Regions from separate parts of the Homo sapiens genome. Here regions 2, 3 and 4 are each linked to region 1. Evidence: fine-mapped expression QTL. A gene starts in region 1. Each other region holds a variant in brackets. All regions are shown on one strand. Distances are between the middles of the regions.

Region 1 (8,196 bases):
TAGTAATAAATGAAAATAGCCAGCAGTCAGGGGCATCATTGGTGAGAAGTCAGCAATCACCTAAAGAGGGGATCATTATGGCACTTTATAACTGCTGCATGACCTTGGCAGAAAGTGTTTCCTGCTAATTTTGCAGCTGGCTTTATCTGTGTCTGTCCTCCTTGTCTGATTAGTGGCAGGGCTTCTTTTCTCTTTTCAGTCCAAATTGATTCTCACTCTTTTAATCCAAAAGAGATTTTAACTCTTTCAGCATCCTAGACTCAACTCATCAGAACATTCACTAGGATGCGTTTTCCTACTAGCACTTAACCAAGTGTAAGAATCTCAGGTTCATCATGATTTAATTGAATAGAAACTTCTAGAGCCACCATCAAACAATCCAAAGTTGAGGTAAAGCAATGTGGCCTAACAGGTTCCAATGTAGTATACTTAGAACCTTTCCAGATGCCCCACTACTCTGCCTTTTGATAATACCACTGCCCTCACTAATAGTCTTTTCCAGCTTGGAGCAGGTCATCACCTTTTGCCAAAAGCCTAAGGACTCTTCATTGGGAATAGCATTGTTTCTGAGGCTCACCATGCTTGGAATCTGTTCCACATTTCCAGCCCTCTCTCTTTCCATGTATCCTACCTTTGAGCCACACCAGAGGGATTCTTGCACTTTCATTTCTCTATGTTTTTGCTTACACTTTCCTCTGTCCTGAAATTTCTTTCCCTCCTTTCCCCCAATCAAAATCCTATTCTCACTTGCCTGATACAGGAACCATTCTCCAAGAAGCCACCCTTGAACTATCCCATGGAAATTACTAGTTTCTTCATTAGCACTTCCATAAAACTTTCCTTGTAACTCTGTTTAGCACTGCTATTGTTTTTTTCTCCTAAGCACACAGTCGTTTTTGTTTGTTTGTTTTGCAGTTTTCCTTGATATTTGGGGAAAAATGTTTATTTTACCTACTCTCTACATTCTAGGGATATTTCTTAGCCTGAAGTTCCTGGCTTCGCTGTGATCCTTTGGAGGCATAGGAAGGTGGGGCAACTTGTGAAACTTCATATATATAAATTTCATATATATAAATATATATGTTCCTGTATGTGTGTGTGTATATATGTGTGTGTGTGTGTGTGTGTGTGTGTATTTGTGTATATGTGTACTTTGCTGGGGTCCACAACTTTCATCAGATACTCAAAGAGATGTGTAACCCAAAAGAGAAGAGGTTAAGAACAACTTTTAGAATATTAGATTGTTATGGCACAGGCACTCTGCCACTCAAACAGATGGGAGAGACAACTATAGGCAACCAAGAAATCATGAATGTGCATCAAATATGGGTGCTTAAGGCATGGTACCCAGCTGGGCAGGTGGAGAATGCCATCCATCCAAAGCTGCCAAGGGCTATTAGCCAGTACTGATTAAACTCTGGACTGCACTGATTTTTGGAAATTGCACTAAAATCCAGATCCTCCCTAGTCACGGCACAGAAGCACAGGAGTTGGCTGTGTTTACCCTCATAAATGCCCTGAGTGTGCCTTTGTTAGAAGCTTGGTTGGCAGTGGCAGCAATGCTACTTGTCCTTGTCTACTTTTTCTACTTCCAGATAAATATTAGTTTGATTAATAATCACATTTCAGTTTGTCCCAGGCCCCATGAAGTAGATTAGAATTCTGGAGGGAAAAAATATGGTACGATCTATATCGTCTTTCCATAATATACCCAGTAAATAGAAAATCTTTTCAAAAGATTACCTGATGCCACATCTCCCTCACCCCCTTATTGTTACCCAGGTGCCTGAATGTATGGGTTGCAATACAATATAACCAATGATTAGCATGAATGATAGAACCAGATGACTTGACCTTCAGTGTAAGGGATAGGCAGGCCTTTGATTATACTCATGAAATGCCCATGCTAAAAAGGTTCATGTTTTTAAGGATGTTTCTCCTGCCTCTTCTCTCCTATTCCCTTGCTTAAAAATTCTCTGTGGAATTGATTTGGCTGATAAAAGACAGGCTAACTTATTTTAAAAAGGGACTGAAAAATCCATGCACTTCCAATTGTCATGTGCAATCATGGACCTGTCAACTAATTCTTATTTTGGCAGTTTTGAGATCACTTGTCACAAATTATTCCCTCTCACAGGGGTATCTGAAGAGAAAGCAAAATAATATGCAATTCATGTAGCTGGATTCAGGTGGAGGGGATTCTACTTTTAATATGCAATTGGGTAGCTGGATTTGGGTGGGGGGGGGATTTTACATTTAATATGCAATTCTGGTAGCTGGATTCGGGTAGGGAGGAGTCCACATTTAATATGCAATCAGGTAGCTGGATTTGGGTAGAAGGGATTCACATTGAATACGCAATCAGGTAGCTGGATTCCGGTGGGAGGATTCCACATTTCCTCTTCCTTCAAAGTGATTGTTTATATGAAATATCTCCTTCTTTTCAAACAGAGAAAGTTACAAAAATCCTACTACATCAAATGATTTATGAAAAATAAAGGTAATTCTATCAAAAGCAATCGTGACTAGTCTTTCAACCTCGCTATGCATATATCGGGGAGTGTATTTGTTAACCTGAAAGGCAATAAAATCTGCTTATGGGTAAATCAATTCCTACCACTGGGTTCTTTTGGGAATATCTAGTAATCTAGGTCAGTAATTCTAAAACTTGAGTGTGTATTAGGATCACCTAAAAGGCTTGTTACATCACGGATTGCTGGGCTACACCTAAACAGTTTCTACTACAGTAGATCTGGGATGGGGCAAAAGAATATGGATTTCTCACAAGTTGACAGGTGATACCGATGCTGCTGGTCTAGGGATCCCACTTTGATAACCACTGACCAAAGTTTTTAAGGTCACAAGGTGTTTATAATTAGTTCAGAAACCAGGACACAACATGTTTAAAAATCCTTAGCAATACAAGGTAATATGAGGCCCCAAACAGGCAACAATGTGCACTATATAAGGGCAGTGGTGAGAGAACTCTGGTTTGGCAAGATTTCCACTCTCAAATCTGGATAGGGTTAAGATCATCAGAGAGCAGGGCATTCTAGAATGGGGAAATGAACCAAATTAGTTGGAGCTAAGACTGGAGAGGTAGGTAGGGATGTGTCTGTGGAGGGCTTTTAAGCACATCTTATAAGGAATACAGATTTTATACAACAGGTAATATTTCTTCCACCAACACACTGTCTCCTCCTGTGGCACGTGGGCAGAAAGATCTAGCTCCACATTACTGCAAACGGTTTAACCTTCCCCAAATACTGTTCAGCCGGAGTGAGGTGGGAAAGTTAGTAGATCTCTGGTGTTTGGTGAAGATACCAAGTTAGACTGAGAGGTGGATTACTTGCATCGCTGAGTCCAAAAGTTGTCGGCTTTTGCAGGGATGGGAAAGCAGGAAACTTTTGGAGGTCTCCCAAAATATAAGAAAAGATTGTTTGGGTGTGGATTTAGGTTGAGGACAGGAACAGGAAATATCCTGGGATGTCTGAGGCAACCCAATAGAGGGTCTGAAGTGGACGAGACCATGCACTACAGTGCAATGCTTTTCCATCTTTACGGTGCACCCCAGGAGTCACCTGGTGATCTTGCTGAAGTGCATGTACTGATTCAGCAGGCCTGAAATTGTGCATTTCAAAGATTGTGAGTTCCCAGAGGATGCTGATGCTGCAGACCGCGCTTTGAAGCAAGGTACCATGGGACATCCCAGAACACCTGCGGGGAGAGAGGCCTGCTGGCCACATCCCCCGAAGAAAGGATACATGCAATCTTTTAAGCTAAGGCCCCCATCCTGTCTCTCGGGAGAGGTGAGCAGTGAGGATATGGGGACAATGAGAAGGACGGCTCAAGTAGGGCTGGGGAGGGGCAGAGGCGCCCAGGCGCGCCAGGTGCAAGCGCTCTGGAGAGTGCGGTCTGCCTGGGTCCGCGGCTCTGGGGCTGCGGCGCGATTGCAGGAGTTTCGGCCCTCAGCGGCTCCCATCGCGGCTCCCGGGAGCTAAGCGAGACGGCGACGGCGGCAGTCGTCCCTCCCCACGCGGGCGCGCGGGCATGCGGACACCCACTCGGCCGGTCCAGGCCCTCAGGCTCCCGGAAGCGGAAGGGGAGAGCGGCCCGGCCTGGGCGGCGGCGCCGGAGGAGGCGGAGGTGGCGCGGCAGGAGGAGGGGAAAGAGCTGCTGGCGGTCGGGAGAGCGGCGGCAGCGAGAGGCGAGCCAGCGGCGACGGTGAGTGTGCAGGCGCGGGGGCGAAGCGGCCGCCCCCACCCCCATCCCCATCCGCACCCCCACCCCCATCCCCGGCCCCCGCTCCGCTCTGCCGGGCCCGCCCGCCGCTCCTCCGCGCCGGGACGCCCTCACCTGTTCCTGCACGCCCCCTGCACCTGCTCTGTTTGGAACCCGGGGGTTTCTCGGTGCCTCCCCGCCCCAGGCCTGGCCTTTTTCAGAGCGTCTTCTGCTAGAGCTACAGCCCCTTGCTAAGTGCTCCTCCCTCAACTGGGGGTGGGGGGTTCCTGCTCTAGTCGAGACGATGTTGGCTAGTTATTTATTTATTTATTTTAAATCTGTATCCTGAGTTTCTCGCTTGTAAACTACAGTTTCTCTCCCCGCACCCCCGTCTGGAGACCTGCACTGGGATCCCGGGTTTCTCTGTGCTATTCCAGAGCTTTTCATTCATTCCAGACTTCTGGTGTGAAGCTGCAGAGAGGACAAACAGTTTGCTCCTTTATTGACCTTCTCACTCCTCTCCTCTTGATCCAAAGAGGTTTTCGGAAAATGGCTTATGGATGGCAGCAGTTTGCACTTGTTACTGTTCACTGTAACAGGTCGCTGGATTGTAACTGCAGAGTCCATTTAAGTTACGGTCTTTTTCAAGCTATATGTGGGTCACATTTTAAGATCCCTTGAGAGTCAGGGTGGATGTCTGTATCACCAGGGCTGAGAGGACATGACCAATTATTACTTTAAAATATTGCAATATAGCAGTCTCTAAAAGTAGAAGAGAAAAAAAAATCAAGGTCATTGTGGGCGGGTCATAAATTATATTGTAAAGTTACAGTCCAAAGGCGACTAAGGATAATTAAGTGCAATTTAAAAAGATGTGTTAAATAGGTCCTCAGCCTACTATGCTAATATATGCACTTTTAAAAATTCACTGCTTTCCTTGTGGTAAGAATAATATTAATAACAGTCACCATTTGATGACTGCTTAGTATGCGCCATTCCTGGATTAAAAGGCTTTTGGTGTAATATTAAATTCTTCCAACTCTTTAGATTTTACTTATTTTAAAGGTAAAATTCGGAGAGATGCTCTGTTTTTCCTTAGTTTGTGCCATCTCTTAAAAGCAAAAAGATATTTGAAGAATTGAGGTGAGAAATCCACTGGAAAGAAAGAGCCAAATGAGATTTGGTGTCGTGGAAAGAAAAACTAGATTCTAGTCCCATTTCTGTCACTATCCAGCTGTGGGTTTACAGGTAGGGCAATGACCCATGTTATTTTCTCTATACCATCAGAGAGCCAGACTAAATTATTTAAGGCTTATTTTAGCTTTTCCATGCTTACTTGGAAAATGTTTTTAAATAAGACCCTTTAACGTGGTTTGAAGGTACATTAAAAACATATACGAAGTATTAGTAAAATATGAAAATATAAGTTAAAATGTATAATTCCATAATTGTTTTGGTGTAGTACTCTTCCAGAATTCATCATTTTCGATGGAAACAATTCTATTAGATCCTTTGACACTACTGAGATTTCTGTTAACATACTTGAGAAGCTGTAGTTGGAATAAATGAAATAGAGCGTCATTTAAAGAAAATGATGAGGACCGTGTCACTTTTGCCTACGAGGTACTTTGTTTAATAAGAGAAATCTAAGCATTTAAAAATGCAGACATATAATCAGCTTAACAGGAAGTTCTGAGACAAGAATCAATGAATCATAACATGTACTTCTTATTTGCCTACTGCCTCATTTCTTTAATTCGTAATGACCGATTCAGAACCTGTGGAAAAATGCATGAATAAAATAATGGTTTTATAAAATGTGACCCACATATAGCTTGAAAAAGACCGTAACTCAAATGGTCTCTGCAGTTACAATCCAGGGACCTGTTATAGTGAATAGTAACAAGTGCAAACTGCTGCCATCCATAAGCCATTTTCCCGAAAACCTCTTTGGGTTGAGAGGAGAGGAGTGAGAAGGTCAATAAAGGAGCAGTTTATTGTTTGTCCTCCTGCTAGTCTTATTATATAGTGGTTTAGTAAAGAAACTGCTTGAGAAGTTGAGTAATGTCTCAACATGGAGCTGTTTTTCTGGAATTGTAATTGAATGTGACTCAGTGAAAACTTTTTTAGCATAGGAGGTGACACAGTGGCAGTATCAATACTACCAGGCAAAAGAGGGAAGGCAGAGGAAAGGCTGTTTTTATTGCCAAGAGTTTGTTCCCTAAATTCAGTTTTACTTTTATATTAAGGAATGTAACCTTTTATGTTGTTTTAGTAAAACATTAGGGCTCAGATTCAACTTTTCACATGCATTAAATATAATAGGCAATTTAGCATCTAGTAGAATAATCAGTGCTTAAATAACTCTTATTAAAGGTAAAAATACAGGTGAAATTGTAAAACAGTTTTTATTGTTGAAAGTGATTTGTTAAGAATTCTTGATAAGTCAAGTCAGACTAGTTTAAAAAGCACATTTTCATAGACATGTGAATCATCACTGTGCTCATTGATAGGTCCCTGAACAAAAATACCTTAGTATGATGGTACTTTATGTGTTTGTTTTGCTCTTTAGACCTAACCTAGGCAAAATTGTGACATTTTTGAAGTTTGCCTTCTGCCTTTCAAGCTGCTTTTTCCTCTGTGCTATTTCTCTCAGGGTAGATTAACCTTCTTCCCCATTTCAGAGACTCTCTTAACCGATGTGTTGCCCCTTCTACAAAAGGGCAGGTTGGGTAAAATTGATATTTTACCATTCACTGGTGAATTTTATTTTAAATCTAACCTAAAATGCTCAAGTGTGATGTCAACCAAGCTTCTGATTTTAAGCTTTTTATCTGTAATTACAGAATGAAGAACTTTTTCACTTACTGCAGGATTTTCAGCTTCAGCAAGCAGGTGAGGAGAGATTTTTCTTATGGTGTTAGTGTTCTTAAATCATGGCTGCTTTGGTAAAGCCTGGTGTGAAGGAAATCTAATTTAGTCTTCTACCCCCAACCCCCCACCAATCTCTCTTGGTGTGGTGGGTACTAGAAGGTAAGTAGCAGGCTTCCCTTCCTTCTTGGAAGAACATACTTGATTCATACCCAGGAAAAGCCTGGGCCTCTTCATTTCTGGCTTTTACTGTATCTGAAGGTTTTTTCCTTGTGCTGATTTTGGAACAAAAGTTACCTTTTTAAATCCCTGTCCCTATCCTACATTTAATCTTGCCTTTTCAGTCCCTTTTCCCACTCCTATCTCCCTAATGAAAATTCCCACAGAGACCTTTTGTACTGACTGAAACAATATTTGGTGGTCTTTAATTCGTATCACCCCACACCTCCCAAGCTATTTTTACTTTTTGTTAGAAGATTCTAATGAAGTGAGCTTGAGCCAGGGAGAATGGAGACTGAGGCTGCAGTGGGCTGTGATTGCAGCACTCCAGCCTGGACAACATAGTGAGACCCTGTCTCAGACAAACATACCCAAAAAACAGTGGCCCAGTTATCTACTTTCTCTAAAGTTAAAGCAAGTTAATGCAAGCAGGGAAAAATAAAGGTAAATGCCTGTATTAGCAGTACTAATACTACTAGTAGTAATACTACTAGGATAGTGTTAGCAGTATTAATACTGCAGTGTAGTACTACTAATACAGTCATGTACATTTATTTTTCACTCATGAGACTGGTGCACACAAAAACAAATTTATGAGAAGAGCAACAGCTTATGCTCAATTTTGCCCAGAATGTAATTTAAAGACTTAGTCTACAGAGTGGATTCTTGAAACCATTGATAGTGCAAGTATTTTATGCTTTGACACTTTGTCCACCCACGTTTTTACAAAGTCTTCCTGGAAAACTCAGCAATTGATTCAGAATCCCTGCTTGCATTATACATTCTTTATTAGCTTCTGAGATCAAGTACTGATTTTCTTTCACACTTTATTCCTTTGCTCACCAGTCCTGCTTTTACTTGAATGTGATTTAGTTTAGGGGCTTC
Region 2 (8,196 bases), 65 kb after region 1:
ACTGTTGCTTGATAGTAGTTTTGATACATTTTTACTGAATATATTCTGATAAACACTTAATTTCTTATCCACAGTATATATGCTATACAGGCATACTTGTTATATTGTGCTTTGTAGATAGTGTGTGTGTGTGTGTGTGTGTGTGTTTGTGTGTGTTTTAACTAGTTGAAGGTTTGTGGCAATGATGCATTGAGTAAGTCTTTCGGTACAATATTCCCAACAGTGTGTGCTTACCTGTTGTTTCTGTGCCACAGTTTGGTAATTCTTGTAATATTTCAAACATGTTCATGATTATTATATCTGTTACTATGATCTATGATTGGTGATCTTTGATGTTACTATTGTAATTATTTTGGGGCACCACAAACTGCGCCCGTATAAATGGCAAACTTAATTGGTAAATGTTGTGTGTGTTCTGACTGCTGCATTCACTGGCCATTCCTCTATCTCTCTTCTTTGGGCCTTGCTATTCCCTAAGATACAATAATGTTGAAATGAGGCCAAATAATAATCCTATGGTGGCCTCTAAGTATTTAAGTGAAAAGAAGAGTTGCATGTCTCTCACTTTAAATCAAAAACTACAAATGATGAAACCTAATGAGAAAGGCATGTTAAAAGCTGAGACAGGCCGAAAACTAGACCTCTTGTGCCAAATTGCCAAGTTATGAATGCAAAGGAAAAGTTTTTGAAGGAAATTTAAAATGCTACTTCACAGAACGTACAAATGATAAGAAAGTGAAGCAGCTTTATTGTTGATATGGAGAAATTTTTGGTGGTCTGGATAGAAGATCACACAAGCCACAACATTCCATTAAACCAAGCCTAATCCAGAGCAAGGCCCCAACTCTTCAATTTTATGAAGGCTGTAAGAGGTGAGGAAGCTGGAGAAGAAAAGTTGGAAGCTAGCATAAGTTTGTTCTTAAGGCTTAAGGAAAGAAGGCATTTCCATAACATAAAAAATGCAAGGTGAAGCAGCAAGTGCTGATGTAGAAGTTGCAACAAATTATCCAAAAGATCTAAGATGATTAATCAAGGTGGCCACACAAAACAACAGATGTTCAGTGTACACAAAACAGCCTTCTATTGGAAGAAGATGCCATGTAGGACTTCTGTGGCTACAGAGGAGAAGTCGATACCTGGCTTCAAAGCTTCAAGGTACAGGACAGACTGACTCTCTTGTTACGGTTAAATGCAGCTGGTGACTGTAAGTTGAAGCCAGTGCTCATTTGCCATTCCAAAAATCCTAGGCTCTTAAGAATTATGCTAAATCTACTCTGCCTTTGCCCTAGAAATGGAAAAACAAAGCCTAAGTGACAGCCACATCTGTTTACAGCATGGCTTGCTGAATATTTTAAGCCCACTATTGAGAACTACTGCTCAGGAAAAAAAGTTCCTTTCGTAATATTACTGCTCATTGACAATGCATCAAGTCACTCAAGAGCTCTGATGAAGATATACAAGGAGGTTAATGTTGTTTTCATGCCTGCTACACCCCTTATGCATGCCATGGATCAAGGAGTAGTAATTTCAACTTTTAAGTCTTACCATTTAAGAAATACATTTCATGGGCTATAGCTGCTGTAGACAGTGATTCCTCTGATGGATCTGGAGAAAGTACATTGAAAACCTTCTGGAAAAGATTTACCATTTTAGATGCCATTAAGAACATTTGCGATTTATGGGAGGGGACCAAAATAACAATATGAACGGGAGTTTGGAAGAAGTTGATTCTAAACTTCATGGTTAACTTTGAAGGGTTCAAGACTTCAGTGGAGGTGGTAACTAAAGATGTGCTAGAAATAACAAGAGAAATAAGAAGTGGAAGATGTGACCGAATTGCTACAATCTCATGATCAGTGTTGAATGAATGGGAATTTGCTTCTTATGGATGAGCCCAAAAAGTGGTGTTTTGAGATGGAGTTTACCCTTAATGAAGATACTGTGGACGTTATTGAAATGACAACAAAGGATTTAGAAGAGTATATGGACTTAGTTGGTAAAGCAGTGGCAGTGTTTGAGAGGATTGACTCCACATTTTTTAACGAAGTCCTACTGTGGGTAAAGTGCTATCAAATTGCATCGCATGCTACAGAGAAATCGTTCATGAAAGGAAGAGTCAACCTATGCAGCAGACTTTATTGGTTTTTTTGCTTGTTTGTTTGTTTTGGGATGGAGTCTCTCTCTGTCGCCAGGCTGGCGTGCAGTGGCGTGATCTCGGCTCACTGCAACCTCTGTCTCTCGGGTTTAAGCGATTCTCCTGCCTCAGCCTCCCAAGTAGCTGGGACTACAGGTGTGCACCAACACGCCAGCTAATTTTTGTATTTTTAGTAGAGATGGGATTTCACCATGTTGGCCAGGATGGTATCGATCGCTTGACCTCAATATCCACCTGCCTCGGCCTTCCAAAATGCTGGGATTACAGGTGTGAGCCACCGGTTTATTGTTTTAATTTTGACAGCCACCCCAGCCTTCAGCAGCCACCACCCTGGCCAATCAGAAGCTGTCAACTTGGAGGTAAGACCCCCTACCAGCAAAAATATTACATCTCCCTGAAGGTTCAAATGATCATTAGCATTTTTTATCAATAAATAATTTTTAATTTAAGGTAGGTATGTACATTGTGTTTTAGACATAATGCTGTTGTACACTTCATAGAGTATAGCATAAACATAACATTTATATGCAGTGAGAAACCGAAAAATTTTTGCTACCGGCTTTATTGCAATACTCGCTTCATTGTTTAGAACCAAACCTGCAATATCTTCGAGGTATTTCTGTAAGTTATTTATGGTTTTTGTGTATCAGGTTTGATTCTGACTCTCTTCCCTTCTATCAACATGTTAATTCTCAAATTGCAAGGGTTTTTTTCTGTAGTATTGAACGTTACATTTTATTAAGGTAGAGAGATTTGGTTATGAGGTGATATTTCTAAAACCGAGTGGAAACCACATTTGTTGAATAATGCTCCCTCCAAAAGTTTCATCTCTTTCTGCATATGTGTAGTAACCTCTCAGAGCACTGTACCAGACACTGCTGGTATCTATAGCAATTACACCTCTGTAAAACAATCAAAAAAGAATTGTTAAGAAAGAGAAAGCAAGAGAGAGGATATATTCTATTTGTTATCCTAACCTTTAGTCACTTTACTTTCTCTTGAATACGAGTACTTTTTAGAATTACAATGAATTTTTAAATCTCTTTAGCTGGGATTTCATAGTGAACCTCAAGCGTTACCCTTTTGGGGTTTAAAAAAGAAATTAAAAAGGGTTTCCAGAATATACTCTTCCTCACATTGATTTAAGATTCTTTGAGGCTTGATTATTTAAAAGTCTAATGCATTCGGTGTTTAATTTTAAATCGAATGAATTAAATTAGCACTTAAATACTATTTAATATTTTAATTAAGTTAAAATATAGATGATGCTTACTTTATAAAATAAGTTTGCTGTTTTGTGATAAAATTAAGATTACAAGAAATTATACATCTGCACATGTTTTTGTCATAATTCGAATCCATGGATCTCTCTTTACAGTGTTAAGTGACGAATTTGTCAGGTTGCATAAGAAAGAAGTGGGAGAAAGAATCACAGTAAATTTAATCCTTCCATTGCAGTCTTACTTTTTCCCTACTCTTGCACCCTAAAGATCCTAGAGGCATTTTGGGAAACTACTGATACGGATATCATTTCATTACGTAAACTATTTTATTGCATAGCTTGAATATAGACCTACTAGACATCAAACAAGCAAAATAAGTGTTGTCTCTTTGGGATTTAGCTTGAGGTTTCAGGGAAGCAGCATATCACTTTTCAGTAATTTTTTA[C/G]CATTATTCATTTTTACTTGGAATAAATAAATCATTTATCTCATCTTCCTGTTGATAGTGAAAGATAACAGGATAATCATAGCAGTGATAATCTGATGTCATTTTAGACCTAGCAAGAGTAGATTATCTGTGACCCAGATAAAATAATTAGAAATTACTTTAACTTAAAAATAGTGGATTCTAATCTCATTTTCAAGGTTAAAAGATTTCAACACAACCAGATGTTTCTGTTAAATAGACTAATCTGAAGCCCAATTCAAAAGGATTACCTGTGATTATTTTTCGATTTAATTTTAAACAGGATTTAAATATACGTTTTTGTGCGTTTTTACTACAATTTATATTGGAATAAAAATGTTTTCAAATCAGTCTACTTCGAGGCATTTTTTATTAAGGGAAACAGGTTAGTCAAATTATTTTTTAGACTTCAGACTGTTTAGCCTGTTTTTTGGTTTTTTTTTGCTGTTTCTGAATCAAATGGATAGTGATGTTATTTAATGTAATTGATGTTGTCTGAATTATTGAGCAGTAGTTCACACATAGCCAACAATAATGTCCATTCTGATGAGCACCAATACTAATAGTGCTGGGTGATTGTATTTGTCATGTTCTCAGTCACTGGGCTTGGAGAGAGTTAATCAAGAAGTGCTGTAACAGCTGGTACAGCGCATTCTGGTGAGGTTCTGACAGTGAGCTATTGTGTACCATGACACTGCTCTGACAGTTTATCTAATTTTTATATACAAGCATTTTTGTTTTCTGGGCTCTGTGGAGTTTATATAATAGTGTAAGCTTTTGATGATGTCTCTGGAGATTTTCTCAGTTGTGGTGAGGTTGGGGGTAGGGTGAGACAGATGTATTTAGTTGCAATTTTGTAAAAGACTAAATTCTCAAACAAAAAAATAGTGATTTTTGCATTTGGTTTCACAGGTGCTATTGTTGGATTCTATTTGAATTGCTGAAGATAGCTTAAATCAAAGCTTTTCAAATTAAGAAGAAAATGTTTTCCCCCCTAAATACTGGCTCATATTTAACTCAGCAAGTTAATGTTTACTTAAATAAATACAGGAGAAATCATAAATGCAGGGGTGACAGTTTTAACTTGGCTACCTTACTCACTGAAAAGTATCTTGTGTTCCAAGTGTGAAATCAGTTTAAAGGAGACTGTCTAGTAAACAGCATTTTACGAATCAGTCGATTTACTTGCCTTTTAATCTATACACAGAAGTGTAGTCCTCAAATGATTAATTCCTATAGTTAAATTTTGCCTAGTATTCTGCCAAATTATTTTGAATTAATAGCATTCAGTACACTCTTTATAACAATTATGTTTGATGTACTCAGCTCCAGGTCAGCATTGCAGACATGAACATCATTGCTAATTATGCTGACCCCAGCTCACATATACTTCTATAAAGGGAGCTCTGTAAGGCATTTTTGTCTTCCTCTGAATTTTTGCTTGATAAAAATAAAATAAATGTATTTCTAATGTAGTATTCCCAATTGTAATATTATATGAAAGATTTTATAGCTTTTTTAAAACCTAGAAAGTTAATTAAAATTTAAAGTGTCCCTTCTTTTTAAATATGCTTTTAATGTCATATAGTAAAATTGGGTATAATATTTTTTAGAATTTTGTATATGATAAGTTTATAAAAAACTAGGTTCCCCCTTGCCAAGGGCATTTGCTTAAATACCAAGTTATATTTCATATTTACATGAAATACTCTTTTAAAAAAATTATCAAAATTATTTTGATAATTATGGTGTGTGGAATTGGGCTACTCTTTAGCATATGCATGTTCCTATGTAAAAGCATATTTATATTGCATAATTTCTGTTTGCTCAGTGTAATAAACTGCTTGTAAGTATTTTTGATAAAACTAATTAAAAAGAAATCTTTTTCTATAATTTATTTATATGTCCTTAAATCACTACTGATTGCTTGAGTGATTAAATAGATGCTTAAAAAGTGTTCGTAAGGAAACTAAACATTTATGGGTTTTCCTTTTACTAACAATTTTTCCTAGATATTCATTTTATTATTTCATGATCTGAATCCACACAAATATTTAATCTGACATTAAAACATAGGACTGCAGAAAGCAGTAAATCTTATATTTATGGTTTGCTTATGGTATTTTGGCACAATAATTTATGTACATTTTATTGATATATTATTATTCCCTGAATCTCAGCCAAAGGGGCATGTTAAATGCCCATCTTATTTCTACTAATAACCAAAAATCTTATCAAAGTATAATTTTGGTGTTAAAAGTGTAAGAGTAGTTAAATTTGAGTTTTGATTATAAACAGTTTTTCAGCTGTTCCAAATATTCTGATTAGTGCGAGACTTATTTCTACAAAACATTATTGTATATAATCATCCTTGCTGGCTTCCTCTCTATGTTACTATATAATTATTTCCTGTATACTTGACTACTTTTACTAGATTGTAAGTTCCATGATGCTAAGGACTGTGTCATAATAGATACTTGGTAAATTTTTGATAGATGGATAAATGAATGAATGAATCATGGTTTACATATTTAGGACTTGTTTTTTCAACTGGATTATAAGCTCTTAGAGGGCATAGGATTTTATATGTGTAGTCTCTTGTAGTCCCTATTATTTTATTTTTCATTATAAAACCACTTGTTTGTTTGTTTAAACATAATGTTGAAAAGTTACATTTTGAGGTAATTGAGGTATTTCTTTCCAAGCCCTCTCAAAAAGTAGGTAGTAGGCAGTATCACTAAAATCTTAAGACTGCCATTTATTGAGGAGTTATAAGGGGTTTTGACATAATTAACTCATTTAATCCCCACAAAAACCTATGAGGTAAGCGTTATTATTTGGAAATGGAGGTATAGAGTTTTAGCAATTTTCTTTAGATTATACAGTCAGAAAGTGGCATTTAAGATTAAGAGAAGTGTGAGGATTATTTTGGAAAGAGATTTTCAGTGTCTATAAATATAAGATCTGTTGCCTTCTCACTTTTGTTCTATGATTGATTCGATGTTTATGTGAACTTCAGATCCCTGATAAAAGACATAGCTGGTCTTTTGTTGGAAATGGGTGCTTAAAGAACCATTCATTTCAAATGAGGAAAGTAGAAGGAAGACAGAGCTAAGATTAACAGGACATTTCCCTCTTTTGATTGAAAACAAAACTAAAAATAAGGAATCATGCTATTTCTGTTCATGTCCAATTAGTTTAGTGCTGCAAATTTATATTAAGTTGACCATTTTGTACAGTATGTGCTGCTAAGTGCTATGGAAAAATTTAAAGTTAAATGAGCTACTGTTCATATACTAATCAGAGGTGCTAAGAAGTGAAATGAAAGTCTTTCTTAGAATTAATATAAATTAGTAATAGATAAAGCAGGCAAAGTTTTTCTCTAATTGTGAAAAACTTGCCTGAGTAGTGTTTTTAATTTTTAAATTTTTGATTGATATATAATAATTGTACATAGTTATGGGGTACAATGTGATGCTTCAATATTTGTATACATAATGTAATGATCAAATCAGTAATTAACTTATCCATCACCTCAAACGTTTTTCATTTATTTGTGGTGAGAACATCCGAAATCCTCTCTTCAGGCTATTCTGAGATGTACAGTACTTTGTTGACTGTAATCACACTGCTGTGCAATAGAACACCACAATTTATTACTCCTTTCTAATTGTAACTTTGTACCCATCGACCATCCTCTTCCCCATCCTTCACTTCTTTCTACCCTCCCCAGTCTCTGCTAACTACTGTTCTATTCATACTTCTGTGAGATCACCTTTTTTAAGATTCTGCATATGAGTGAGAACAGTCAGTATTTGTCTTTCTTTAACTGGCTTATTTCATTTATGCATGTGATCACAAATGATCGTACTTCATTCTTTTTTTGGCCGATTAGTATTCCATTGTGTATATATACCATATTTACTTTATTCATCTGCTGTTAGACACAGGTTGATTCCATATCTTGGCTATTATGAAGAGTGCTGCAATAAACATGGGACTCTGACATACTGATTTTATTCCTTTGAATATACAGTTGTCCCTCACTCTCCATGGGGGATTGATTTCTGGACCCCACAGGGATATCGGAATCCATTGAGGCTCCTGTTCCTTATGTAAAATGGTGTAGTATTTGAATATAACTTATGGACATCTTCCCTTGTACTATAATTCATCTTCTAGATTATTTATAATACCCGATACAACGTAAATACTATGTAAATAGTTGTTAAACTATATTATTTTAATTCATATTATTATTTATTTTTTTAAATAGTTTTTCTTAAAGTATTTTCGATCCATGGTTGATTGAATCACAGCTACAGAACCCACAAATATGGAGGGCTGACAGTGTA
Region 3 (8,196 bases), 88 kb after region 1:
TTAGAAGTATCTGGAGAAGTCTGATCTTGTGCAGATAATGTAGTTGGAAAAAGGAGGAGTATTCTGATCTTTTCAGGTAACTGGATATTTTCCTCTGGTACTACACTAAAACTCAAGTGATGGTTTCTTAAAGTTTAGTTAGTTCCAATGTGGAGTCAGAAACAATACCAAGGAACTTTTCGTGTTCTTAAAATCCACTGGTCTCTTTTTCACTTTGGAAAGTTCTTTTAGCCATACAAAATTAAGTTCATTAATATTACCACTGGTCTTGTCAGAAAAGTAAGTATTGCTTTTAGCCATACAAAATAAAATTAAATTCATTAATATTACCACTGATCTTGTCAGAAAAGTAAGTACTGGGAAGCGGTTAAGTTTGTGGTGACAGATTACATTTTTCAGAATTCTAATTTTCATGTGAAAGCTTGAATTTTTTTATTGGCAACCACATACTGTCAGTAGTTGTCCTTGAAGTGACAGGTTACCTTCACTTATTTTTGAGAAAATGCTTGCCAAATACCCAAGTCTGAAAAACTGGTTTGTCAGTCATTCCTTCAAGTATAAAATGGTGTTCCATGAAAGAAAGTGGCTAGTTCAGCTTGCAACTCAAACAGTCACACAAGTGCTTTTCTTTAGTAATAATACAATTAAATTCTGGAATTCACCTGAAGTGCTTTATGTGTACTTCCATTTTGTCAAACAATATTTAAAATGTGCTCAAGAACAAGCTTTAGTAAAATTAATGGTTTTTTGCTGTTTCATCAGTATTAAGTGAAAATGGCTTGTCACCTTTTTTAAGCGATAGTGTGGTTTAATCTAGTTAATTTGGCTTTGTTTGGGGAGGAAACAATTGGGGAAGGTGGAGCAGAGGAACATACATTTGAGACTAGATTCATTGACTCTGATAAGTGAGAAGAAACGTCCACTGCTAAAAATAATTGGAATGTGTATCTGTATATTCCAGCTTTTGAACACTTAAAATATGTATCCTTTACAGATTCACACCTACTTAGCCTTGTTATAAAGAGGCAAAAACTAAAAATACGTGATTGTATTATAAGAGTGCAAAATCATTTGAGAAGTTGCCAGATACTGTAGATGAACAAATGCATACAAATGCTGCTCTAGGCTGACCAATTACCCATATGAGCAGCAATTATATTAGCGTGCAAGAGCAATTGGAAGGAAAATTGGACCCTGTAGACATCCAGCTGAGCAAACAGTACTGAGGAAGGATAGAGGATATGTGTTAGCTTGAAAAAAAAAAATACATCTAAGCTAACTTAAAAAAATATTTGTATCAGTCACAGCACATTCTTTGTATGTCCTCTGGATGACTAGTATTTTCAAATTAGGCCCCTTCTCCAAACAAGAAAGCACCTCTGTTTAAAGATCAAACACAATAAAAATAGCAGTGTGTTTTGCATTTTTTAAGAAAGCCAGACTATTGAGGAAATTAGGAACTTGGAATATACAATTCCAAGCACTCAGATACTACTGTAGACACGTATTTGAGTGTGTCTTTAGTAGTAAGTTTAATTGTAGCATGGTTTGGGTGATATTTATCTTTCTTAGTATTGAAATTTACAACTTTAAAAAATTAGACATGTTCCCTCCTCCCCAAAAGTAGCTACTGGCCATAACTGAATGTTTGAGTACCTAGTACGAGATGGAGATTTTATAGTTCCACATTGAAACTATAGATGCGTAATCCTAGCTGAAGTCAGGACCAACAAGTTAATGAAATTTGTTTTATAACTTGTGTAAGCTTTGTAGCTGTAGAACACATATCCTCATTATGTTAAACAGGTTCATATTTTAATGGTGTCTAGAAGTAACCAGTATGAAGGGTTTTTGGATGGTCTGCACTTGTAACTTGATGTCTGGCTTTTAGCGAGTTTTTCAGTGTTCAAAAGCATTTCAGATATTCTCATCACGGAAAAGTACCCACAATGTGGAAAATACTGATCCAGTCAGTGCACGATACTGTGCTGTGAAGTGCTCTAATTTTTGTCATTGATTTTTCATGTACATTTTTTACGTTTGAAAGTCTCCAATAATTTGGGTAATCGCTGTGGTAGGAACCTTCTAAGAGGGTCTTCAGTGATCCTCACTTTTTGGTATTCAAAGCCCTGTAGAGTCTTCTTTTTCCTCCTCAGAGGTGAACGCTGTTTTAAACATGGTATGTAGCATACTGATAGATGTTTTTATACTTTATGTAAACATGAAAAATTGATCAGTTTTTAAAATTTACATAACCCTTCCACAACAGCCCTGATCTCTTGTCCTTACTTCCCCCCCGCCCCCAGCCCATAGCACTTATCACCGTCTAGAACAAAATGGAAAAAATTGCCGTTACCAAAATCTTCACTCCCACCCTCCTCCCCAAAAGTAGCTACTGGCCATAATTTGGTGTGCATCATTGCACTCCCCTTCCTTCACATTATCATATGTGTTATATATGATATTCCTATCATATAATGATATATGATTATCCCTATTAACATATAATAACTTTTTTTTTGGATACAGGGTCTGCCTCTGTCACCTAGGCTGGAGTGCAGTGGCACAATCTCAGCTCACTGCAGCCTCCACCTCCTGGCTCAAGCCATCCTCCCACACCCAGCTAATTTTTATATTTTTTGTAGAGTCGGGATTTTGCCATGTGGCCCAGGCTGGTCTGCAACTCCTGAGCTCAAGCAGTCTGCCCGCCTTGGCCTCACAAACTGCTTGATGATAGGCATGAGCCACCATGCCCACCCTCTTCTGTACAGTTCATATCAATAAACTATTATTTAACCATTCCTCTGTAGTGGGCATCATGTAGATTTTTTTTTTTTTTTTTTGCTATTAGTAACAGTGCTATGGAGGACAGTCTTGTGCAGAAATATTTGTGCCCATTTGTTAGTATTTCTGTAGGTAAAGTCTAGAAGTGAAATTGACAAGTCAGAGGATGTACTTATTTTTAATTTTGATAGGAAGTACCAAAATGTCTTCCAAAATTCTTTACACACATTCTCACATGAATACTATTAATCTTTAAAATTTGTAGCAAAGTAATAGAGGTGAACGTCTGGTTTTTTTTCTCTTGTGTATTCTTTGTTTATGGTTTTTGACTAGGTTACCTTTGCTTGTCAAATGTTAGTAACTTTTTATTAATATATTTCCTGGGTATTATTTTTTAATCTATTTAATAGGTTTCTAAAATTTAGCCCAGTCACTTGTTTTTCTTTATGGTGATTGTTCCAGTTGCTTTTGCTATATAACAATCCCAAACTTAGTGCCATAAAAAAACCAACCATTTTTTTATGGTCACAGTTTCTGTGGGTCAGGCATTCAGAAAGGGCACAGCAGCTTTTCTGTCTTCCATGGTGTCTGAGGTCTTAGCTGGAGGACCGAAAGATCCTGGAAGATTCTATGGCTGGCAACTGCAATCAACAGAAGCCTCGTTTACTCGCATACCTGATGGTTGATGCTGGCTGTCAGCTGAGAACTCAGCTTGGGTTATCATCCAGAACACCTACATGGACCTCTACATATAACTTTGGGCTTACTTACAGCATGATGGCTGGGTTCTAGAAGACAGTGGCCCAAGACAACCAGAAAGAAACTATGTCACTTTTTGTCACCTAGCTTCAGAAGTCACAAACCTGTAGTCCCAAGCTTATCCAGAGTCAGCGGGAGAGAACATAATTCCATTTCATGGGAAGAGTGTCAGAGTCACACTTCACAGGAAAAGTATATAGGATGGGAGATATTGTTGAGGACATCTTTGGAAATTAAATTTGCCCAATCATCATGTTGTATGGAAGAATTAAACTACCTTGAAATTTAGTACTTTTTATTATGACTTCTGGGTTTTATTACCTTGTTTAGAAAGGTCTTTCCTAAATCAAGATTATGTATTTTCCTTCATTTTTCAAGAAAACTTTGATATTTTTGTTTTTTTAACTATTATGCCCTTGAATCCATTTGAAGTTTATTTTCATAAACCCCAGTGTAGCTTTATTTTTACAAACTTCAATGTTTTGTACATTTTTGGAAACTTGTTTCTGTAATATTGTATAGTGAGAAACTAAATTATTTCAGATGGACAAAATATTAACAACACATAAGATCTGACAGTATAAAACTCCTAAAAGAAAACATAGGGGAAAATCTTCATAACATTGTTGACTTCTTGGAGATAACACCAAAAGCACAAGCAACAAAAGCAAATATAGACAAGTGGGACTGCATCAACTTTAAAAGCTTCTGCATAGCTAAGGAGACTTAATAGAATCAAATGGCAGTCTATCGAATGGGAGAAGGTATTTTCAAACCACATATTTGCTAAGAGGTTAATCAAAATACAAAACGAGCTCCTACAACTTAATAGAAGAAAAAAATCCATATAAAGACTGATTAAATAATGGGCAAAGGACTTTAATAGATATTTCTCCAAAGAAGACACACAAATGACCAACAGGTACGTGAAGGGATGCTCAACATCACTAATAGAGAGATGCAAAATTACAACGAGGTATTATCTCACAACTGTTAGAATGGCCATTTGAAAAAAATAGTGTTGGTGAGGATGTGGGGAAATTGGAACCCTTATGTACTGTTACTAGGGGTGTAAAATGGTGCAGCTGTTTTGAAAAACAGTATGGAAGTTCCTCAGAAGAATTAGAAATGCTATATGATTCAGGATTCCCACTTCTGGATATTAAAAAAAAAAAAAA[T/AT]GAAACCAGGATCTGGAAGAGATATTTGCACTCCCCATTTCATTAATGCAGTATTCATAATAGCCAAGAGATGGAAACAACCTAAATGCCCATTGATGGTTGAATGAATTTAGAAAATTTAGTATATACGTACAATGGAATGTTATTCAGCCATAGAAAAGGAAGGAAATACTGTCAGATGCTGCAGCTTGAACCTTGACAACATTTTGCTAAGTGAAATAAGCCAGCCACAGAAGGACAAATACTGCATGATTTCACCAATATGAAGTATCTAATGTAGTCAAACTTATAGAAACAGTAGAATGGTGGCTGCTGTGGGGAGGGGGAATTGGGGAACTGCTGTTCAAAAGGTATAGAGTTTCTGTCACGCGAGTTTAAAAAGTTCTAGAGCTCTGTTGTATAACATTATGCTTATAGTACTGCACTATACTTAAAATTTAACAGTACCGTACTGTATATTTAAAAATTTACTAAGAGGATTGATCTCATGTGCTTTTTGCCACAATAAAAAGTAATGTGAAGTATGAAAAATAATAACTGGAGAGTTTACTAAATTTGTGTAATTAAAAATACCAAGATTAATTACATGCTAATGTTTTGCTTTTTTCAGTTTTCTCACTTTGTTTTCTAAAAACATGCAATGTTACAGATACATCTAAGTCCTCAACCTGCAGTTTTCCTCCCTAGAGGTAGCCGCCATCCTAAAGTCAGTGTGAATTATTTTCATGAATGTTTTTGTGCTTTTATGATGTATGTAGCATCCATAAATGATACTATTTTCAAATTTTACATTTATGTAAATTTTAATCAGCATCACATTTTTTAAACAAAACATCTTTATTAATGTAGATTTGGGCCATTCATTATAAATCCCACAGAACAATTATTTGAATAAACTGTAGTTTATATATTATTCACTAAGTGGATTATTTCCTTTGTTATTAACTTGTTCAAAGAGAAGTGAAATAGTGGAATGGTAAGGTATGTGCATCTTCAACTGTAAAAGCTTTCCCAAATTGCTCTTTAGTCAAACCAATTTACACTCCAACCAACATATATATTGTTTCATCTTCCCCCACATCCTCACTAACCCTATGTAATGAGTTTTTCCTATTTGTTATTGATACATATTTTTGCTGCTTCCTGCATCATTTGTCAGTCCAATCGATTTGCCAGGAATCTAATGTAATTTTCTGGAAAAAGTCTTTGTAAATATCGAGAGAAAAAGTGAATAAAAACATGACTCTAATAACTCAATAATTCATGAAGGATATATTTTCTTAAGGCAAATCAAGGGATGAGTCAACATCTACGACTATAAATATGAATAAAAAATTATGCTCTTATGAGGTAGCCAGAGATAAACCACATTACTGAATACTTAGAGTTCGACCCCTCTAAAGTTCAGGATCCACTTGATTGTATTTGTTTCTTAATAAAGAGCAGCGATTCCCTTTTTCTAAATATTTCACAGGTAGATAAATTTGTAAAGTCCTTATAAAAATAAGTATTGCCTGTTGAGATCTTATTTTCATATTTTATTTATCTAGCAAATCAAGATTAGCTCAGTAATTTATATATCACATGAGGGTAGATTAACGAGCTTTGGTTGCGTTTATGTAAAAGTGGTTGAATCCAAATCTTTCATGTTACGGTTGTGCTTGTTACTGGGTCTTCATAGAAGTAAAAACCACACTGGGGAAAAATACCACAACAATTTTTTGTTTAGCACATTTTTTCACATCTGATTTGCAGTGTCATTTGTGTCCTTGAAGTATAGCATGCATTTAATTCTTCCAGTGGTTATCTTAAAAATTTCAGGAGGATTTACCTATATATTTCTAATTGTAATATTCATGTAAGAAATGGTACCTCAAATAGGAGGTAACTCCTCCTATTTGACATAAGAATTTATGTTTTTATTTCCTATCATACTTTTAAAAATATAATTTGGAGTTTAATACATTATTTTCTGTCTTCCATTTTTAAAGTTCACTTTATTGAGGGATAGTTTAAACACAACAAAATGTATTCATTTTAAGTACATTTCAGTGAGTTTTTAGAAATATGTATATCCATGTAGCTATCAACATATTCAAAATATGGAATATTCAATCACCCAAAAAGTTTCCTCAGGCCACTTTACTGCTCCCCCTCAACTCCCACCCCTCCAGGAAACGCGGACCTGTTTTCTGTGACTGTAAGTTAGATTTGCCTTTTACAGAATTTCGCATGAATGAAATTCTCCCTTTTTTTTTTTTTTTTTTTTTTTTTTTGAGATGAAGTCTCTCTCTCTGTTTTCCAGGCTGCTGGAATGCAGTGGCATGATCATAACTTCACTGTAACCTCGAACACCTGGGCTCAAGCAGGCCTTCTGCCTCAGCCTCCCGAGTGGCTGGGATTATAAGTGCAATTCACTGTGCCTGGCTTTTGTCCTTTGTTTTTCACTGGCTTTTGCTCAGCATATTTTTGAGATTCATTCATGTTGTGAGTATGTTTCTTTTCGTTTCAGCAATTTAAAAATGTCATCCCATTTTTTCTGACCTATAAATTTTCTACTGACAAATCTGTTTGTCTGATGGGGATTTCCTTATATGTGACTTGATGCTCTTCTCTTGCTGCTTTTAGATTTATTTCCTTTGGCTTTGGCATTTGACAGTTTGACTATATGGTGTGTGCATTGGAAAAGACCTGTTCAGGTTTAATATACTTGGGAATCACTGCACTTTGTCTATCTAGATGCCTGTATCTCTGGCAAGACTTGGGAAGTTTTTAGCTATTATTTCATTAAATAAGTTTTCTGTGCCTTTGGCCATCTCATCTCATGGAACTCCCAAGATGCGAATACTTTGTCACTTTATGAGGTCCCTTGTGTCATTGTAGGCTTTCTTCATTTTTTAAATTTGACTGAATTATTTCAAATGACCTGTCTTCAAGTTGAGAAATTCTTTCTTCTGCTTGATCTAGTCTATTGTTGAAGCTCTCTATTGAATTTTTTTATTTCATTCATTGAATTCTTCAGTTCCGATATTTCTGTTAGGTTCTTTTTATTATTATTATTATACTTTAAGTTCTGGGATGCATGTGTAGAACATGCAGGTTTGTTACATAGATATACACTTGCCATGGTGGTTTGCTGCACCCATCAACCCGTCACCTACATTAGGTATTTCTCCTAATGCTATCCCTCCCCTAGCTCCCCCACCTCCTGACTGGCCCTGGTGTGTGATGTTCCCCTCCGTGTGTCCATATATTTTCATTGTTCAACTCCCACTTATGAGTGAGAACATGTAGTGTTTGGTTTTCTGTTCCTGTGAGCGTTTGCTGAGAATGATGGTTTCCAGCTTCATCCATGTCCCTGCAAAGGACATGAACTCATCCGTTTTAATGGCTGCATAGTATTCCATGATATATATGTGCCACATTTTCTTTATCCAGTCTATCATTGATGCACAACTGGGTTGGTTCATAGTTT
Region 4 (8,196 bases), 510 kb after region 1:
AGTGAATAAGACTAACATGTTTCTTGACCCCATGGGTTTTAAAATGTAGCAGAAGAGTTGCACTCTAACCCAGCCCTTCAATTACCTGTGTTGTCAGCGTTTGCAAGGGGCAGTGCAACCAAGTAGGTGGGGATTTTTTTTTTTTTAGGAGGGGGAGGAGGAGTACTAATTAAACCTTAAAGAACATTAAATATATATATCTCATAGCCTTTTTCCACAAAAATACTTGTGCATATTTCACTGTTGTGTGAAATTATTTTTTTCCTAGTATTTCTAATTCCTTTGAAAACAACTAAGACTAAACTCTTACCTTTCATTAACTAGTTGCCACTGGGCAAGATGAAAACTGATTCGTGCGTGAAATGGTTTGCTTAGAGTCAGCGTGCTAGTGCTTGGCAGTTGCCGGATAGAGCCCAGAGTCCTGACTCTCCAGGCAGTTTGGAGAGAACATGTCCTGCTCCCTGAGAAGAAAGATTGCCAATGAAATATTAGAAAGTCTTATGTCTGATTTTAACCTAGATATATTAAGTGTTGGGAAAATACATGAAGTGACATAGCACAGAGGGGCCATGTGTACACAGGAGTGTTGTATGTGTGGGATTTAGAATAATGCGTGAAGACTCCAGGATAAACCAGATATGTAAGTCATGGTGCTAGGTAGTAACATAAATGCTGTTCAGGACTTTGGAGGTAAAACAGCACTTATTTTTCTATGCTTTCCTTTTAAGAGAAAAATTTAAGACTAATAGGATCATAAACATTGCATTTGTTTTATGTTGAAATTCTGCATTGATTTTTCGATTTGCCTTCATGATTATGTTCTTGAGTCTGATGACATTCTGGTTTTCATTTTCAGATTCTTATTTCACCAGCATTTTCTTTGCACTACATACCTTGTTGTAAAATGCAGGTTTCTTGGTTTCCAAGGGGAAAAAATGTATATTACATAGTATAGCTGAAATCCAAAATGTCTCCCAGATGGAAAAGAAAGAACATTCATCTCATCTTTTCCTACTGGATCTGGCTGGGTTTTGGAAAGGACTTTATTATTTTCATGTGGCAAACTGCGTTGGCAAATTGTTCCTCAAAGTACGCAGTGGCGTGTTCATCTAATATTATAAGATATGGGCAGCATTTATGAAAGATTATAAATCTTACAACCCTCTTCAGAAACTTAAAATACAGCTGGAAATGTTTTGCTTCCAACAAATATGCAATCTTCATAAAATTCGAAAAGAAATGTTTTGAATAAATAATGTTTTAGTTTATTTCTCTCTAGTGCGAGAGCTATTTCTTTTAGTCAAAATCGTGCCATAAAACTCTTCCCTCCTCTACATTAGCACCCTTGCCTCTGTATTTATATTATGCTGGTGCATTTAATGTATATTTTTAAGTATGCCAGATTGCTTTGCCTTGTTTTTAAAGATAGAAAACTGGATTTGCTCCCAGGGACTCTTTCCCTAACTCGACCAGTTTAAAAACTAAGCAAGGATTGAGTCAGTTAATTAATTTAAATAAGATTACAAATCAAAAACATATTATGCAATCTTGATTTAATTACCACATTTTATTTACTTAATTGAAAACACACTGTAGAAAGTCAGCAATCTTGACAATGACCAGTACGGTGTTTTTGCATTCTGTAGGTTAAAGCCTTCAAAAGCAAGAACTGTAGGTGATCCTGATTATGACCTTTGGTTCACTCAATCCCTAGATCAGTAGGAAGTCATTGAACTTAATCTTAGGTTAGGGCAGAAAGGTCAGATATGATTATCCTAGCTTCCCATTGTTGTGGGGGGTGGGTTGGTACTACTTAATGAAGTACCACAGCCCTCTGGTCAGAGATGTTGGCAGGTTTAACACTTTTTGTGCAGGGTTTCATATTTGCAGGGGATTCATTAGTAGTCCCCTGTGGTAGAATGATTTGCTTTGATTTTTTTTGATATATGATTTTTGATAATATGATTTTTTTTCCACCTTAAATTTCAGTGGCCTATTTTTTCAGTTAATTCCCTGTGGACAAATTTCAGTCTTGAGCGCTAACAAATCCTTATTTTAATCCTTGGGATATGACTCTTTGTACCTAATCTCCTTGTTAAGCAAAAAAGTGGCTCTTTAAAAGAAAGCTTAATGATAAAACAACTGGGATGTTCAGGAATGAAACAGGATATATCGTATATCTACTCTCTTGTTCTGTAGTTTTCTTTGGTTAATGAAATTACTTTATCATGAAGATCTTAAGTGTAGCAACATCTTTTTAAACTATGCGTTTTGCTAAATCAAACGTATATTTTAAAATCAATGTTAAACAACAGAAAGAGGGATCTGAAGATATAGGTCTTCATACTTGAAATAGTAAATAGTTTAAAATATGCAGGAAACTGCATCTCCCAAATATTATATTGGTTCTGCCAAAATATTCAGAGAGGTCTAATTTCTCTTATTGCTCAGAACTGGGTTTAGGAGGAGTACGGATTCACTAAAAAAACAAACAAACAAACAACAAACAAGATCAGGGATTCCATTAACAAAGTGATAAAGTTAAAACTTTTCATGAACAGCTTGTTAAGTTAAGTTTTGCAGTGAAGTGGACTCCAAATAATTTAATGCCCTATTGAAAAGAGACAGAGAGACAGAAGCAGAGAGAGACAGGAGATAAAGGGAGACACAGGCACACACACACACACACACACACACACACACACACACACACACACATACACACACACACACACACACAGGAGCGAAGAATGAAGGAGGGAGAGAGAGAGAGAAACCATTTCCCAAACATTTACATGCTTATGAGAGGCAAGGAAAACACTCAGTTTTCCCATGTTCTTTCGTTGTCTTATTTTAATACACATCTAATAGAGAGAAAATAAAATAATGTAGAACTATAATTTTGTGTCACCCAAAGCAATGAAGCAACCTTCCATTAAAACTGAAGCTGCCTGGTGTTTTAACTGTGCTGGAAAAAAAAAAGCCAAATTATGTAATAGGAAACTTGATTATGGAAAGCTAGTGTTCTGTAAATCCCAAGGAATCAGTCATGGGAGACAGTAAACTGCAAAGAGTGAGGTAGAAAACTTTGGGCAGAGAGAGGGGAAGAGAGAAGAAGGTTTGGCCCAAGGAGAATAGTTTGCTCTCCATTACCCTTAATAATATAGATGTTTTTGTTTTACCTTTTTATTTCCCTACTATAAAATACATGCATTTGTATTCCTTCCGTCAAGCTTTTGTTTCTTACCTGTTACGTCTTGTTTCTGGCATGCTATATATTTAATTGTAAAAATATACTGTTTTATTATATTATCAATTAATAATGTTTTAGAGAGAAAGAAAGAGACTGTTCTGAGCCTTAAAAAAAATCTCATGGTATTCTTTCATTGACAATGGGCTATTTCTTCACCTGCTTAAGGCAAAGAACTATGACAAAAGGGCCCTTTATCACAGGATGACTAAGTTTAGTTCTAGCAAGAGGCTATCTGTAGGTTAACAGGTTACATTGTGGGTTTCATTTACTCCTCTGATATCCCTTGATATAAAAGCTATATTGTTATGGAATCATAGAATTTTAGAGCCACAGGGGACCTGAAAACTCACCTTGTACAGCTCCTTCTTTGCACCAAACTCATTATAAATTAAAATTATGCTTTTCCAGTTGTCTTTTTCTGTTGATCCTCAAGCCATGGTGTCAGAGAATAAAAAGAGTTCCTAAAAGAAGTTTCATCTAGGAGTAGAAAGTTTATCTATAAAGGTCATTAAAACTTTCTTGCCTCAGTGCTTGCAAAGTAGGGACATGGACCTTCAACAAACATTTCTTCTCTTTATAGGAGATGGACAAAAAATAATTTCTAACTCAAAATAGTATGTCTTATCCACCCTATCTTGTTTCCAAATATTTCTTCAGGAAGTTGGGAAGTAGGATTGAGCCTTACATTAGACTGAGAGACTTAGCCCTGGGAATTGTGTGTCTGTTTCCCTGGCTTGCCACAAGAAATTTATCTGTTTGACTTCTACTGTATGATTTTACACAGAGCGGTATGCTTTGTCTTTCTTTCTTGTGCACTTTTATAGTTTATAGACTGATGGTTTTCTGTTCATTTGACTTAACCAAATGTGCCAGGCCCTATCCCAAAGATTAGGGCTATAAGGCTAAATAGGGCAATAATAGACTTCGTGTCATATTGTTGAGGATGTAAAGGGGATGACCTCACCCTGGGGGACTTCAGGGAGAAAAAAGGGGGAACATTATGCACAGACTTGGAGACATCAAATGCAGGAGACACACAAGGAGTCCAAAGGCTAAAGTATGACCCAGGTGCTGATGGGGACCAGATCAAGGTGCCATGAATGGCATACTATTTTCAGAATATATGTAAAGGTTTTAGCAGATGTTTAGCTTAATCAGTTTTGGGTCTTATAAAGATC[T/A]TCTTGGTAAAAGAGTGAAATATGTCTTAGAAAGGTGGGAAATCAGGTCGTTTTTTCACGGCATTGTTCCTAAGGTCACCTTCTTTTGATATCTTTTATGATATGCCCTTGCCCACCTTTCCTAGGAAGAATCATCTGTCCCCTCTTGATTTATGTATTTTTTTATTTGTATATTTCTGTCTCTTCAGGCAGCCTCTGAGCTTCTACATGGCATAGAGTATACTTTTTTTAAAACAATATTTAAAGGTCATTATTGTAAATTAAATATAAATTTAATAAGCATTACAGAGCACCTACTGTGTTCCAAACATTACCAGGTGTTTGGAATACATGAGCCGATCTTGGCTCACTGCAACCTCCACCTCCCAGGTCCAAGTGATTCTCATGTCTCAGCCTCTCAAGTAGCTGGGATTACAGGTGTGTGCCACCGCACCTGGCTACTTTTTTGTATTTTTTGGTAGAGACGGGGTTTCACCACGTTGGCCAGGCTGGTCTCAAACTCCTGGCCTCAAGTAATCTGCCTGCCTCAGCCTCCAAAAGTGCTGGGATTTACAGGCGTGAGCATAAATCTTAATTGATTTACATTTAAATGATGTTTACATTAATGACCTACAAAAAAAATTTGACAGTTTTGATGATTTATCTACCTCAGATAGTTGCAGTGTATCTACTCCAGAAAGTTAGTGCTCAGTAAGAAATACTTTACAGGCTATTACTTATTTATTGTCATATATATTTAACACACATCTTACAGAGCTTCCACCAGATTGTCCATAAAACATTAGAATTTCCTTTGCTTAATGGAGACAAATTTGATTTATAGAATTGGCCTCTCTTTAAAACGTCAATTAGTATATAGAGTTCAGTGATACTAATAATTGCTTCCAACTTAGATATAGAAAATAGCTAAAGGTTTAAAAAAAGATTCTGAAAAAGATTTTGAATGTATTGGTGAATGGTGGGAAGGGTGAGGGAGGTTAGGGGAAGGTAAGTTTCCCAGAAACATTTAAACTACTGAAAAATCATTTAGCTTCGCATTATTTTAGGATTGCATCATAACGATTCAAGAAGTATTGTGTCTGAATAGGCTGTCCATATAGAGAACATAAGTTTTAATAGTTGCTATGCAACTTTGGACAAGCCGTTTGATCACTTATGTGTCCTAGGATCTTCCATAAAATTGGGTCATAGGAAAAACTGCTCACTCCTTAGGTAAGCTTAGATATTAGAAGAGCCACGAGAGATTGACCGCTTTTAAAAAAGGAGTGGACGAAAGGATTGAAAAGTTGGTAAGGGTCGTGCATGAATGTGAACCTTTTCTTGTTCCTGGAGAATCTTTAACCTGGAGAAGAAGGAACTGATTGAGTTTAAAATATAGTAATTTAGAAATAACTTCATTACTTTTTTTTTAGAAGAATAAACATATGTTTAACCCACACTTAAAGAATGGGGAACATGAAACCCACACTTAAAGAATGGGGAAAATAGAGATTGAGATCGAGGAAGATAAAATGAGAGGTGGAAGAGAATGAGGGAGGACTGGTTTTGGTTGGCTGCCTCCAAAAACTCCTCTCTTTTTCTCTACTGCATCAAAATCTTTCCAGACACTAAACTGGGTGTGGTGGCTCACACCTGTAATCCCAGCACTTTGGGAGGCCGAGGTAGGCGGATCGCTTCAGGCCAGGAGTTCAAGACCAGCCTGACCAACATGGTGAAACCCCGTCTCTACCAAAAAATACAAAAACTAGCTGGGTGTGGTGGTGTGCGCCTGTAGTCCTAGCTACTCGGGAGGCTGAAGCACAAGAATGGCTTGAACCCAGGAGGTGGAGGCTTCAGTGAGCTGTGATAGTGCTACTGCACTCTAGCCTGGGTGACAGAGCAAGACTCTGTCTCAAAAAAAAAAAAAAAATTTTTTTTCCCAGACACCAGACCCAGTATGCTGGGCAGCTCACAACTCTTAGCAGCCTTGTTCCTCAAAGACTTCAGCCTTCTGGAAGGTAATTTTCATCAACTGGCTGGTATCTACTGCCTTTTGAGCATGACAGCTGCTAAGAGCCTTGAAGAGCAGTGGACTCCTCCCTTTTGGGGAATGAGGGGTGAAAGCATTTACACAGGATTTCTCAGGTAGGCACACACTTCTCCATGCTTAGTCATCCCACCAGTCATTTTCAGATGCGTGTGTTGGGATGGACAGAACTTAGTTATGTCCCTTTTCTCCCTTTCTTCCTAAAAGTTAGTTGTTATTAAGCATAGAGCCACATTAAAAATGATTAATTTTTTCATTTTAATATGTTTAAACCATTAAATATATTAATCATTTTAAATGTGGCTCTATGCTTAATATTAATATCTTTTATTTACTGATAATGTAGACTGTGTCTGACCCAATGCTTTTGGTGCTTAATGTGATAGAATCTTGCAATGATTTTACAAGGTAGATAATATTATTGCAGTTTTCAAGATCCAGACACCAAGACTCTTAAGAGTAAGTAATTTTGTACAAGATCATGTCACTAGTGAGGGACAGAGCCAGGCTTCACTGTAACATATTAAATACACACACACACACACACACACACACACACACACACACACACACACACACAGAGAGAGAGAGAGAGAGAGAGAGAGGTGGGGGGTGTTGAGCAAAGTGATGGAAGTGGTTAAATAAAACCTTTGGGTATAGAGTAATTTGACCTAGGTGGTGAATTGGAAGGGGTTTAGATGTGGTCTGAATAATTCCTTCTCTGAAGTCAACCACAATAACAGTTCATTTTTGGTTTCTCTGCCAACCACGACTCCCTGGTTACTTCCTTTTCCAGCAGTTGGAATTAAGTGACCGATATAAGGTGACATAAGAGTTAAGAGTAGATTATAGTGTTAGAATTTACAGTCTGAAAAGTAAATGCTCTATCATTTGCTCACTGAGAGGGCCCTCTCCTATGTTTCTGAGACACAGTATACACTGCTTTATTTCATGAGAAGGTATGGGCTTTGGCATATGAAGGAGTCTGTCATTGTGTGCCAGTAAACACCAGATCATTTTAGAAAGTGGAATTGTTACAAAAAGCCAATGTGTGCCTCAAATTTAGGGTCTACTTCAGCTTTCCCTCAAATGCTTGTGGTTTTTTTAGTAAGTATATTTTTTCAATCGAAGAAGTTGGTCTGCAGTTGTTGGAAATGAGAAGAAAAAGTAATTTATAGCAGAAAAGAATAGAGTTTCCCAAGTGGGATGTTGTGGTAACAGGGGATGCCATTGTTCTAGCTGGATAGTTTCTTACGAATGGAAGAGACTTTTCATTCTTTTCTCTGCTGGACCCAAATTTTAGCAACAGATGATGGAAAAGAGTTTTGCGGCACCATTTTGAAGTTGCTGTAACTAAACATGCTAAGGCTCATGCAGAGTCTACAACTCCTGAAATAAGGCGACTGCTGCAACAATTGACAACTTTAACTATCTCAGGTGTCATCACAAGCTTGGCATTAGCCACCTTGAGGGGTGCATGTCTAGACCTTCATAAGAGTGAGATAGCTTTGGAGGGAAAGTAAAACATAGGGAGGCTCTGGTCAGTGGGTGTATTATACATAAGTAGGAATTCCTAAAAAATGTTAGAATCGCTTGAGAAATTAAACTGGAATGTAATATCAATGCTGAGAGACATTTGTCAGAGGAACTCAAGGTAAAAATAGCTGATGCTATAGCAAAAAGTTATGATTTATCATTTTTATGTAGCTATCATACTCCAGGCCTGGAAAGTGGCCCAT

Evidence for each region. PIP is the estimated chance that this variant, and not a neighbour inherited with it, causes the effect. A credible set is the group of variants that fine-mapping cannot tell apart.
Region 2: its variant is the best candidate, but not a certain one, in a credible set for the expression of ZDHHC21 in esophagus muscle (GTEx, PIP 0.84).
Region 3: its variant is the best candidate, but not a certain one, in a credible set for the expression of ZDHHC21 in whole blood (INTERVAL, PIP 0.88).
Region 4: its variant is the best candidate, but not a certain one, in a credible set for the expression of ZDHHC21 in ovary (GTEx, PIP 0.57).

The regions. Positions count from the first base shown.
Region 1 is chr9:14,689,257-14,697,452 of GRCh38, reverse strand. ZDHHC21 (zDHHC palmitoyltransferase 21) reads left to right here and starts at 4,021. Exons shown (of 10, transcript NM_178566.6): 1 at 4,021-4,224; 2 at 7,068-7,116. RefSeq lists an enhancer at 3,516-4,016 and silencers at 4,090-4,159, 4,240-4,379.
Region 2 is chr9:14,624,015-14,632,210 of GRCh38, reverse strand. The region is part of intron 8 of ZDHHC21 (zDHHC palmitoyltransferase 21); the gene reads left to right. Among named protein-coding and RNA genes, the nearest start is that of ZDHHC21, 65 kb to the left of the region's middle. The variant C/G (reference allele first, on the strand shown) is at 3,824.
Region 3 is chr9:14,601,730-14,609,925 of GRCh38, reverse strand. It overlaps a transcript of ZDHHC21 not described here. Among named protein-coding and RNA genes, the nearest start is that of ZDHHC21, 88 kb to the left of the region's middle. The variant T/AT (reference allele first, on the strand shown) is at 4,722.
Region 4 is chr9:14,181,550-14,189,745 of GRCh38, reverse strand. All of the region lies in intron 2 of NFIB (nuclear factor I B), which reads left to right. Among named protein-coding and RNA genes, the nearest start is that of NFIB, 130 kb to the left of the region's middle. The variant T/A (reference allele first, on the strand shown) is at 4,432.